3 linked regions of the Homo sapiens genome follow. The protein of the gene in region 2 interacts with the protein of the main gene of each other region in a pairwise test. Each region holds a gene or a part of one and is shown on either strand. Other genes may lie near its edges.

The links.
Region 1: the proteins of TPM1 (region 2) and MAD1L1 interact in binary tests that used the Homo sapiens proteins (3 or more experiments, as listed by UniProt).
Region 3: the proteins of TPM1 (region 2) and CAGE1 interact in binary tests that used the Homo sapiens proteins (3 or more experiments, as listed by UniProt).

Annotation. Positions count from the first base shown.
Region 1 is NC_000007.14:2,219,258-2,223,005, forward strand, and holds part of MAD1L1 (mitotic spindle assembly checkpoint protein MAD1), read right to left. Parts: intron 3,498-3,748; coding exon 3,318-3,497; intron 1,766-3,317; coding exon of another isoform or gene 1,627-1,765; intron 200-1,626; coding exon 75-199; intron 1-74. UniProt on the Homo sapiens protein: Component of the spindle-assembly checkpoint that prevents the onset of anaphase until all chromosomes are properly aligned at the metaphase plate.
Region 2 is NC_000015.10:63,059,747-63,063,494, reverse strand, and holds part of TPM1 (tropomyosin alpha-1 chain), read right to left. Parts: intron 2,627-3,748; coding exon 2,556-2,626; intron 2,298-2,555; coding exon of another isoform or gene 2,222-2,297; intron 1,783-2,221; coding exon 1,707-1,782; intron 1,281-1,706; coding exon 1,218-1,280; intron 920-1,217; coding exon 850-919; coding exon of another isoform or gene 686-849; exon of another isoform or gene 1-685. UniProt on the Homo sapiens protein: Binds to actin filaments in muscle and non-muscle cells. Plays a central role, in association with the troponin complex, in the calcium dependent regulation of vertebrate striated muscle contraction.
Region 3 is NC_000006.12:7,369,096-7,372,843, reverse strand, and holds part of CAGE1 (cancer-associated gene 1 protein), read left to right. Parts: intron 1-2,778; coding exon 2,779-2,925; intron 2,926-3,748.

The sequences.
Region 1 (3,748 bases), on a different chromosome or scaffold from region 2:
CCACCAGGAGAGAGGTGGGACGCATGCCCCCACACGTGACCCGACCCCCGACCCCACACCCTGGCCCCGCCCACTTGTGTTGCAGGTCCAGCTGCTCCTGCAGCTCCTGCTTCTCCGACTCCAGGCGCTTCACCCGCATCTCCTGGTCCATCACGCTCCACTGCAGTTCCGAGATCCTCCCCTTCAGTGCGTTGATGGTCTAAAAGTAGAGGGGACCAGAGAGCCGCTCAGTGAGTGGAGCCCGTGCGTGGAAGGAGCCTGCACATGGAGATGAGAAGAGTGGAGAGGCGACACCACCCACGTGCTATAATCAGGGCAGGAGGCAGAGGGGCAGAGGAATAAGGGGGCAGAGGGGCATCGGGCAGAGGGGTAGGGGGGCAGAGCGGTAGGGGGGCAGATGGCAAGGGGGCAAGGGGGGCAGAGGGCAGGGGGAAGAGGAGCAGGGGAGCAGAGGGCCAGGGGGCAGAGCCACCTCCTTCTGGAGGATGCAGGTCAGGCAGACGCTCACACGCAGGGCCCACCCTCCTCCTGGTGCTCCAGAGCAGCACAGCCCAGAGCCTGCCACAAGCCACCCAGGAGCTGACAGAGGAGACCGGGCCCCAGCCAGGGGCCCTGGAAAGGAGGCTTGGTGAGGCGGCTTCAGAAGCAAAAGCCTCCACCAGCCAAGATGGGCCCGGACTCTCAGGCCTGGCACCTGGCAGTCTCTGTGCCAGTGCCCCACGCTCCCAAAGTCCCATCAGACATCCACATACCCGCCACACCATCACTTCGGTCTTCCCTCCAACCGTGGCTCCTGTCATCCCTCCCTAGCCACCCCAATGCTACCATGACGGCTGTTTGCTAGCGACATCGCCCTCACACCACAGCAAGGCACTGGCCAACCAACAGGACAAAGACGGAGGCTGTGCAAGGGGCAGGGCGGTACCTGCTGGGGAGGCCGTGCGCTTGGAACGGGAGCACGCGGCACGGGCAGGAGCGCCCCTGGGGAGGCGGCCCCTGAGCAAAGCCAGCAGCCCCTCTGGCAGCCTCCAGGACAGCAGGTCTGCCTGACATCATGGAACCCGCACGCGACAGAACCGCCAGGCTTCCTCCTGACCACTCCCACCAGGCGACCTTCTGAGGACCCTAACCCTCTGGAAAAGCTCAGAAAACCCCAGGTGTCCTCAGAGAAAGAAAGAGCACGTGGGTCGAGCCAATGTGAAAAGCCGGACAGACCCTGAGAAGCATCACTGTAAGTTAACACACGGAAACACACGGGCGTGATGTCAGCCCTGGGGACCACGCACCCAGGACAGGACAATGGCAAACTCACACAGCAAACGACCTGGGTGGGCCTGGCTGGGCGGCACCCTCCGCAAACAAGGAGGCCTCAGCACTCATTTCCCTGTCCCTGAGAACGTGCCCAGCTTAGGGCCTGCTGAAGCCTATCACCGCTGTCCACCCCACGCCGCTCTGGGAAGGCCCGCATGGGGGCTGCGTGCTCCCCACATGCCCACAATATGTACGGTTTACTTCACCACAACAGTGAAGCATCAACCTGGGAGTCAACAAAGAAGAAAGGTATTAAAAACATACTAACAATAAACACATCCTCCCAGAGGTCTTCCGAACTCAATTAATACGCACCGTGTGCCAGGGGCAAGGCCAGATGCAGGGCCGAGCCCACCTGCCCACAGGGTCACCCGTGTTGTAGGGGACGCCGGACAGTTGGCAAGGAAGAGGCGCATAAGATAATTCCAGAGTAAGGAGCGTGACAATCAGGACCCTGTGACAGGAGAAGGCAGTCAAGGCCTAGTGCGCAGGGAGGGCTTCCCTGAGGAGCGGCCACCTCGGCTTAGACATGACAGGCCAAAGCAGCAGCACCTGCAGCGCCACCATCTTCCCCTCACTATGCCCCACCCCACCGGGCACCGCCCTGCGGCTCCTGCAGTCTCCTGCTCCTCTGCCCCTCATGAAGTGCTCGGCACGACTCACCCTCCCCCATGGAACCACAGGTGCCCGCAGGCAGCGGGGACAGCCCCCGGCCCAACTCCAGTACAGCCCAGCACATGGGAACTGGAACCCAGAGCATGGGCAAGGCAAGAGCAGCTTCTCGGGAGCCAATCACGCCTCCTCTCCTGCCAACGTTCCCTCCAGAAGCAGATAGGGGAACAGCCTGAACACGCCTCCCCAGCACGGCCACAGGAAGGACCCGCGGCCAGTTTCTGGACCCCTCCAGGACCCCCGCTGCACGCCCACCCCACCCCTACCACGCCTCCACCCCCACACCAGCAGATTTTCATGTTTCCTCTTGGCACCAGCGATCTTGATCGCCACAGACAAAGGACAGGAGAGGTCAGAAGATTCCAATTTCCACCAGTGCCCATGTCTGGGCTGTTTCTAAAATGCAAGCAACCTTCACCAGGACTGCAGTTCACACAGGCTCCAGTTCAGAGGCAATTATCCGACGCCATCAGATGCCTGTAGACCTTGCAGACAGTCAAAGATATGCAAATCCAGACGTGCCTCCTTAAGCCTCCTGACAAAACAACAGCTATTTCCAGAAAAGACCACCATCCACGACAGGGAAGGCTACGGGGAAATTGGAGCCCTCAGCCAGGCCTCTGAGCACAACGGCTGCAGAGACCGCCATCGCTAGGGACCTTATAACCCAGTCCTAGGGGTCTGTCCAAAGTCAACAGAAGCGAGGGCTGAGGGAAGGGCTACCTGTCGCATACATACATGAGCGAACACAAACACACTAAACGTCCACAAACAACAAAAAACAGATTCATCATCCATTTAAATTCATAATTACAAAGGCAAAAAAGTGCTTAACTTTTTTTTTTTTTTTTGAGACAGAGTCTTGCTGTGTTGCCCAGGCTGGAGTGCAATGGTGTGATCTGAGCTCACTGCAACCTCCACCTCCTGGGTTCAAGCGATTCTCCTGCCTCAGCCTCCCGAGTCCCACAGGCTGGGACTACAGGTGCGCACCACCACGCATGGCTAATTTTTGTATTTTTAGTAGAGATGGGGTTTCACCATGTTGGTCAGGCTGGTCTCCAACTCCCAACCTCAGATGATACACCCACCTCGGCCTCCCAAAGTGCTGGGATTACAGGCGTGAGCCACCGCGCCCGGCCCAAAGTCTCAACTTTTTAACTGAAAACTACAGAATGGAAAATTAATACTTCTACTGATGACAACTATGTACAAAACGCAGCTGCCCGTGTGGGAAGCACAAGTGAAAACACAAGCGGGCACTGCAGTGGCAAACAAGAGCATGCACTCCCTCTCCTCGGGAAAACAGCTCCCTGCGCAGCAGAGGCCCCGCTCACCTCGCCAGCCTGGGCCAGACTGTCCTCTTTCTCACGCAGCCTCTTGCTGGCAGCATCCAAGTTCTGCTGACACTGCCTGTTGCGCTCCAGCTGCTCCTGCATCTTCTCCTCCGCCCCGGCCTCCCGCTCCTGAAGCTGCCGGATGCGCGTCAGGAGCTCCTGGTTGCGGTCGACCTCACGCTGTTAAGAGAGCAAGAGTCAGATGCCACGTGCCGCCCACGGGAGGGTCAGCGGGGAGCCCTCACCCCCACACCTCTCTCAGAACATGCCGAGGCACAAAAAAGAGCCGAGCAGGACCCATGAGCCAAGTCATAGGCAGAACCAGGACGGGACCTGGGACCCAGCCCCAGCGTTGGCACCCCCGCTGTGGCACCATGACGGTGAGCACTGTGCGAGGTCAGGGCTCCCAGGAAGGGCACTTGGCACAGATC
Region 2 (3,748 bases):
CCACTCAAGCTGCCTATTACTGGTCCAGGAGGCTTGAAAAGCAATGGGCGCCACACTTTATATGGCAAGTCTGCAACTTAGTTTTTGTAATGCTGCAGGTTTCATACTTTGCTGCACTTTGGCAGATCATTTTGCAACCATTTGTCATTCTCTCTTCTCCACTATTTTGGTTATTATCTGCACCAAACACTAGTTCCTTCTCTAATCCCTTCTGTGATGTAGATATTTGTCTTTTTTCTTTCTTGTTCACAGCTAATCCTTCACAAGCTTCAAAGCTCAACATTTAGGATATCTGTGAGATAGAGTGGTTATTACTAAAATAAAACCTAAGTGCCTTAGGGAAGAAATGCTTAAGTATAATTTTTCCCTCCTCCTTCAGGATATAAAGTATTTTGTTAAGATAATATATGACTTAAAATAACCCCTAAATCCTTACTTTGAATTCATACTTGGAAGAAGATGGGTTCTTCTAAAAACAAGACCACAATCACCACATCATTCCCAATTTAATTAGGAAGTAACACTAAAGATATAAAATATACTAGAGTCATTCTCACCAATAAGCACCTCACTCACAGTGAAAAATAAACCTGCCACACTTGTAATGAGCATGAAGTCAAGCTGGATGGCATTTGCCACTATGGCTGGTGGCTAACTAGTCACCTCGTGAGCAGAAGACTTAGGTTCATGAGTTCAAGAGCCACAGAGAAAAACCCCAGAGGACACACAGGAAGAATGTGCAAGTGCAAAGGAGCGTATCAATGTGGATGCCCTTGAATTGGAAAATTGTTTTGCCAGGTTGGTATTCAACCATAAGGATTAAACTAAAAACACTACTTAAGATCTTACCTTCTAAGTCATCAATGCTTTTCTCCAATTTAGTTACTGACCTCTCCGCAAACTCAGCCCGAGTCTCAGCCTGTAATGATTTATTTGAGTTAAAGTTGGGAAGTTTTATGTTTCCTGTAGCTACAAACATAGGGAAAACTAGAGGATGAAAATGAAGCACATCACCTATAAAATGGATCAGAAACTACTTGTCAGTTTCAGTCACCTCTGTGAGAAATGGCAGTTAGCACAGTACATAAACTCCAAGGCGACCTTTGAATATTCCTGACTTGGATCATTGGAACTTTAAAATGAAAAGGCCCTGACCGGTTCCATGAAAACAAACTCATTTAAAATCCAGTTGGCTTCATCCACAACTCTCATATTACCTCCTTCAGCTTGTCGGAAAGGACCTTGATCTCTTCCTCATATCTGTCTTCCTTCTGCGAGTACTGTAATTAGAAAGAGCATTCCAGATGTCAGGCTGCAGCTCAATCTACTCATGGCTTCTCATGCAAAGAACTCGCCAGCTCAGCCAACAGATGTTAAGGATCTCTTAGGAGGTAATGGAACCTCTGATATCAAATGGCACACTGCAATACATTCTCTGCTTTCTTGCCTATTGTTTTACATGGGATAACAACAAGATAACTTATCCACTTGGCACTTGGTTTAAATTAAATTGATGCCTCATATCCCTAACATAAAATAAATTCTCTAGTTAAAAAAAAGAATTTGTTATCTAGTAACTCTCCAAAAATCACCTCACAATATTGCCATTTTACTAAAATGTCTACTGTAAGTGTTGCTTTCTGGCAGGGCCTCTTTTGAGCAGCTCTTAAAAGATGCCTTTCCCCCACACCATCCTCCTGGCCTACCTTCTCAGCCTGAGCCTCCAGTGACTTCAAGTTGTTCGTCACAGTTTTCAATTCTTCTTCAAGCTCGGCACATTTGCTAATGTTTTCGATCAGAGGCAGAAAGGGTGGGAGACAAGCCAAAGGAAGGAGGAGAGAAAAAGGAGAGGGATGGGAAAAAATGAAAACTGAGTCCTAGAGACGAAGGGCTGCCTTAAAGTAGCCAAATCATCAGGTATTAAAATGTTTAGGTTTTCCAGGAACACTGCCCCCCAACCTCGCAACAGCAGAAGGCAGGGTGACCAAATCCAACAACTTTGAAGTGCGATAATTTGGCTCCTTTTTTGGCTGCCCAAAGAGCATTTATGAAGGGAAAACAAAGGAGCATAAAGGACCAAGGGAAAGCACTTAAGGCAAGATATAAATAGCAGAGGGTGAAGTGAAGGTGCAGTCGTTATACCAAACGAACCAGGAGGCATTGGAAGCTGAAAGATGTCTGGGTTGCAGTTAAACCTAAAAACCACACGAGCCATCAGTACCTTATCCTCTGCAGCCATTAATGCTTTCAAGGTCTGATCCATTATTCTTAATTGTTCTTCCAGCTGTCGGACTTGGCTGTTAGTGGACACAGGAAATGCACAAGGCCATTCACAAAATCAGTGTGCAGGTAAGGCATGCAGTGATACACGCATTCATACATAAGACACCCCACACGAGTCCTCCATGTTCCATACTCGTGGCTCATCCACATCAAATGAGCACAAAAGGAGCCCGGAGCTGAAACAGGTAATGTGCAGCTGCCAGAAGGTCATGCTGTTTAGTCACTGCTCTGCAGCACCCCATTCGTGGCCTCCTGGCGCCGGGCCCGCTTACCCTTCTGAGAGCTCAGCCCGCTCCTCTGCACGTTCCAGGTCGCTCTCAATGATGACCAGCTTACGGGCCACCTGCAGCAGGAAGACACAACACACACACCATGGGTCTTGCAAGCTTTGTGTAACAGAAGGGCATGGGGGTAGAGATCAGATCCCATCAGGCCCTAAGGGTTTTGTCTACAAACAATATGATCCTCTTTCTGGTAGACCAGAGAGAAGCAACTCTCTATTAGGAGTGCCAGCAGAGAGGAGATCAGAGGCTTCTGCTTTGACTCAGAATGGTTAGCTGTGATTGGGCAGTCTCAATTGGAAGTCTGACCTAGGTGAACCGGCAGCCAGACCAAAATGTGGAAGGAGGGATAAAATACACATTCACAATCTCAAAAACAGCAGTAGGATGAGACATGTACTAAAAAGGTGGGGGCTGCCAGGAAAACAAAGTAAACCTAAGAACTCCATCAATTTGATGGCTGATCTGTGCATCTACCTCCTTACTGCAGTGGAAGAATACAAGAGACACTAACGTGAGACAAGTTGGTGAGATAACTGACAAAATCAAATTTGTATTTAGTGGAAGAACCAGAGAGAGGAAGGGAGCCTCTGAAGCAGATCAAAACTTGTGAGCATAGTGTAATCTGAAGGTAATAATGGTAATAAAAAGGAGGGGCAATGCTGTTTCAGGATAGCCACGATGTGATCCAATAAGGAAAAAACAGAAACCTTAATAATCAAGTTGCCTCTTATCACAGGAGGCTGTTTTCATGGGGACACGACCAGGAGCAAATTCTGCTGAAAACCTGCGTTGATAATAGTTTTCTACCACCCTTGAGGAGAGAGGCCTCTGTGAATCCACTGAGAAACTGTCTGTGGTCTCTAAGCTGCCCAATCTGGATGTGCCAGGTCACTCTGGGAAGAAATGACTTGCACCATGACAGCATGAGAGCCTCCTTTCACAAGACACAGGGCCCAACTCTCCCTTCCGGCCAAAGATCTTTTGTCCGGGTCTTTGTGGCTGGGGGAGAGGAGTTTTGGTCCTTCTTCGCAGTGCTACTGATTGGCTTCCTGATAAAGCCTGGGATCCCCTAGCAGGATTAAAATTAGAACCGTTTTCTGGACACAAAGGAACTCTGCTTCTCAAAACCACCCATTTCTGCCAACAAAGCAGATGGCCTCACTCGGGAATCAAGACTGTAC
Region 3 (3,748 bases), on a different chromosome or scaffold from region 2:
GCAGCCAATCTGTCATGCATGGTGGTGTGCGCCTATAGTCCTATCTATTCGGGAGGTTGAGATGGGGGAATTACTTGAGCTCAGGAGTTTGAAGCTGCAGTGAGCTATGATTGTGCCAGTGCACTCCAGCTTGGGTGACAGAGCAAGATTCTGTCTCAAAAAAAGAAAAAAAGAAAAAAGAAAAACAGATATGGAAAGGAAAATACACCACAGGTTTGGAGAAGTTTCTTTTGGTTCATGAATATTCAAAGAACAGCTATTCCTGCCTTCTTGTGGTTCTTTTGGTAGAGGTGGCCATTAACGTGGGAATTTTGTGGGTACTCATTGCCAGTCATCAAAAGCATCTTCCAGCAGTTACTTTTTTTTTTTTTTTTTGAGACAGTATTGCTCTGTCGCCCAGGCTGGAGTGCAGTGACACGATCTTGGCTCACTGCAACCTCTGCCTCCCAGGTTTAAGTGATTATCTTGCCTCAGCCTCCGGAGTAACTGGGATTACAGGCGTGCGCCACCATGCCCAGCTAATTTTGTATTTTTAGTAGAGATGGGGTTTCACCGTGTTGGCCAGGCTGGTCTCGAATTCATGACCTCAAGTGATCCACCTGCCTCAGCCTCCCAAAGTGCTGGAATTACAGGTGTGAGACACTGCGCCCAACCCCAGGGTTCCTTTGAGAAAAGATTTTCTAAGTTGTCTCTCAATCCTATTCAACAAAACAAAATAATATAATTGCATGTTTGGTTTACAAGGCAAAACAAACCTGTATCATATACTAGTTTTATACATTTAAGAACAGCATCAGAACCATAACAATATGTTTGGAGAAGCTGTAATCTTTTATTATATGTAGTTCAAAAGGCTTTTTTGGCAGCGAAGAACCTGGAAACACATTCTGGAAGTGATAATTTTCACAAGACAGAGCACATCTATTTCAGTTGTGTAGGCCTGCCTTAAAGTATGTATAGTAAAATCTTATTAAATGATTACTTAGAAAGAAGGCTAATATGAACTAGAAAAATGTGTAAGTTTATTTTTTGTATTTGTTTTATTTATTTATCTATTAAGACAGAGTCTCGCTCTGTCGCCCAGGCTGGAGTGCAGTGGTGTGATCTCCTCTCACTGCAACCTCTGCCTCCCGGGTTCAAGCAATTCTCCTGCCTCAGCCTCCCAAGTAGCTGGGATTATATAGGCACACACCACCATGCCCAGCTAATTTTTTTGTATTTTTAGTAGAGACAGTGTTTCACCATGTTGGCCAGCCTGGTCTTGAACTCCCAATCTCAGGTGATCCACCCTCCTCGGCCTCCCAAAGTGTTGGGATTACAAGCGTGAGCCACCGCACCTGGCTATGTTTATATTTGTTTTAATAACTTGAACTGAGCTGATGTTACCTTAAGATGTCCTTAGTGGACCCTCTTTTATGAATCTGTAATCATTTTAAGTATTCTTTACAAGTGAATGATTTTACTGTTTTTAAGGATTCTTAGGAAAATATTCTTTTCCTAAATTAAAAAAAAAATCTAAGATCTAAGAAAAAAGGATTATCTAAGCCAGTGGTTTTCAAACTTGAACATTCTTCAAAATTCCCTAAAACGCTTGTTAAAGCACAGATTGCTGGCCCTACCCTAGAGTTTCTGATTCAGTAATTCTGGGGTGGGGCCTGAGAACGTGCATTTCTAGCAAGATCCCAGTTGTTGATGCTGCTGCTCCTGGGACCACACTTTGAGAACCACGGACCTAAGCCACCTTAACTTGAGCTCCTAAGCAAATCATGATGAATTTTAAATTGGTAAGCTCTGAATGAATTAGTTTAATTGTACAGAAATTTAGCATAGTATATAATTTTCTTTAAGTTCCTTATTTTATTTTGATTAATCAATTTCTCTAACACTGAATTCATACTTACTCTGCTTATAGTTTTGCTTTTCATGAACTCTAGTTCTGTTTACTCCAAATATGGTCTGGGAGTATCTGTGAAGTCAAAAGTATTTTTATAGTAATATTAAGACATTATTGCCCTTTTTACTCTCATTTTTCACAAGTGTACAGTGGAGTTTTCCAGAAGCTACATGATGTGTGATGATGTAATTGCTCTCATGGCTGATGGAATGTGTGAAGCAAATATGAGAATCCAGCTATCTTCAATTAAGCCAGCATTAAAAATATTTGCAAAAAATGCAAAGCAGTGCCATTCTTTTCACAAATTTTTTGTTTCAAAAAATGTGGTAATTGTTTTTTTAAAAAATTGTTATTGGTTTGGCACAGTGGTTCACACTTGCAATCCCAGCACTTGGGAGGCTAAGGCAAGAACATTGCTTGAGCCCAGTAGTTCAAGACCAGCCTGGGCAACATGGTGAGACCCCCCATCTCTACAAAAAATTTGAAAAATTAGCCGAGTGTGGTGGCATGCACCTGTGGTTTCAGCTACTGGGGAGACTGAGGTGGGAGGATTGTGTGAGCCTAGGCATTTGAGGCTGCAGTGAGCCATGTTCACACTACTGCACTCCAGCCTGTGTGACAGTGAGACCCTGGCTCAAAAATAAATAAATAAATAAATTGTTATTTATGCTTCTACATAATGGAGTTATTGCTACTTTAAAAGAATTAGTAAACAAATATTTAAAAATATTCTCAGTTTTAATTTCTAAAGGGATCCTAAGATGAAAAAGTTTGAGAACTGTCGCCCAAGGTTTTTAAGAGTGCCATTTTATTCAGCATTTTACTTAAAAGATATTTCAGGTTCTTCATCATTATTTTGACAAATCTGAATTACGTGCATGTAGGATACAAAAACGACACATTCTAATCTGCTCCCGGATTGCTCACCTTGTGAAGAGAGGCTGAATCCTGCAGATATAAAAAGAGCTTCTCAGCTGGCCTCCAAAATGCACAGTCTTCTGGCTCTGATGGTGGGACTTCTCACATGCCAGGTAATAAAACATATATATTAGATATTTTAGTAGGGGAGGAATAAATACTGGGGTTGGACAAAAAGAGAGGCAATAAAAGGAATTAAGTTGTGGAAGAAGAAAATGAAGAATTGAAGATAAAATACAGACCCCTAAGCCATCCATCCAACCCTTCTTCGCCCCATGTCTTCTTTCTGCTTATCTTTCTTGAACACCTAATGCTCACAAGCGTAGAGATAGATAAGATGTAATAAGATAAAAAGAACCCTTTATTAAGTACTTCCCACGTTTCAGCGATGCCCTCCCAGATCAGTAGTCTTGTGCTCTGGTCAGTCTGCGCCTAGTGATTAATGACTGTTCACATTAATGAGCTGTTTGCCCAATCTAAAATACCACGTTTGGTTAGGAGTCGGGGAAGGGCAGTGTAGAGTTGTGTACATTAGTAGAATGAAAAGTGAAGTTGCTGTCAGATGAGTTCAGATGCTGGCTTATCATTTCCTAGCTGTGTAACTTGACCAAGTAACCTAACTTCCATTTCAGTTTCCTTATCTTTAAGATGGGGAAATGATGCTTCTGTCCTGGGAGCTTATAAGCACTGCATTTAATGAAAAAAACAATTAAGGGACATGCACGGCCAGGTGCGGTGGCTCACGCCTGTAATCCCAGCAATTTGGGAGGCCGAGGCGGGCAGATCACCTGAGGTCAGGAGTTCGAGACCAGCCTGGCCAACATAGTGAAACCCCATCTCTACTAAAAATACAAAAATTAGCTGGGCATGGTGGCGGGTGCCTATAATCCCATCTACTTGGGAGGCTGAGGCAGGAGAATAGCTTGAACCTGGGGG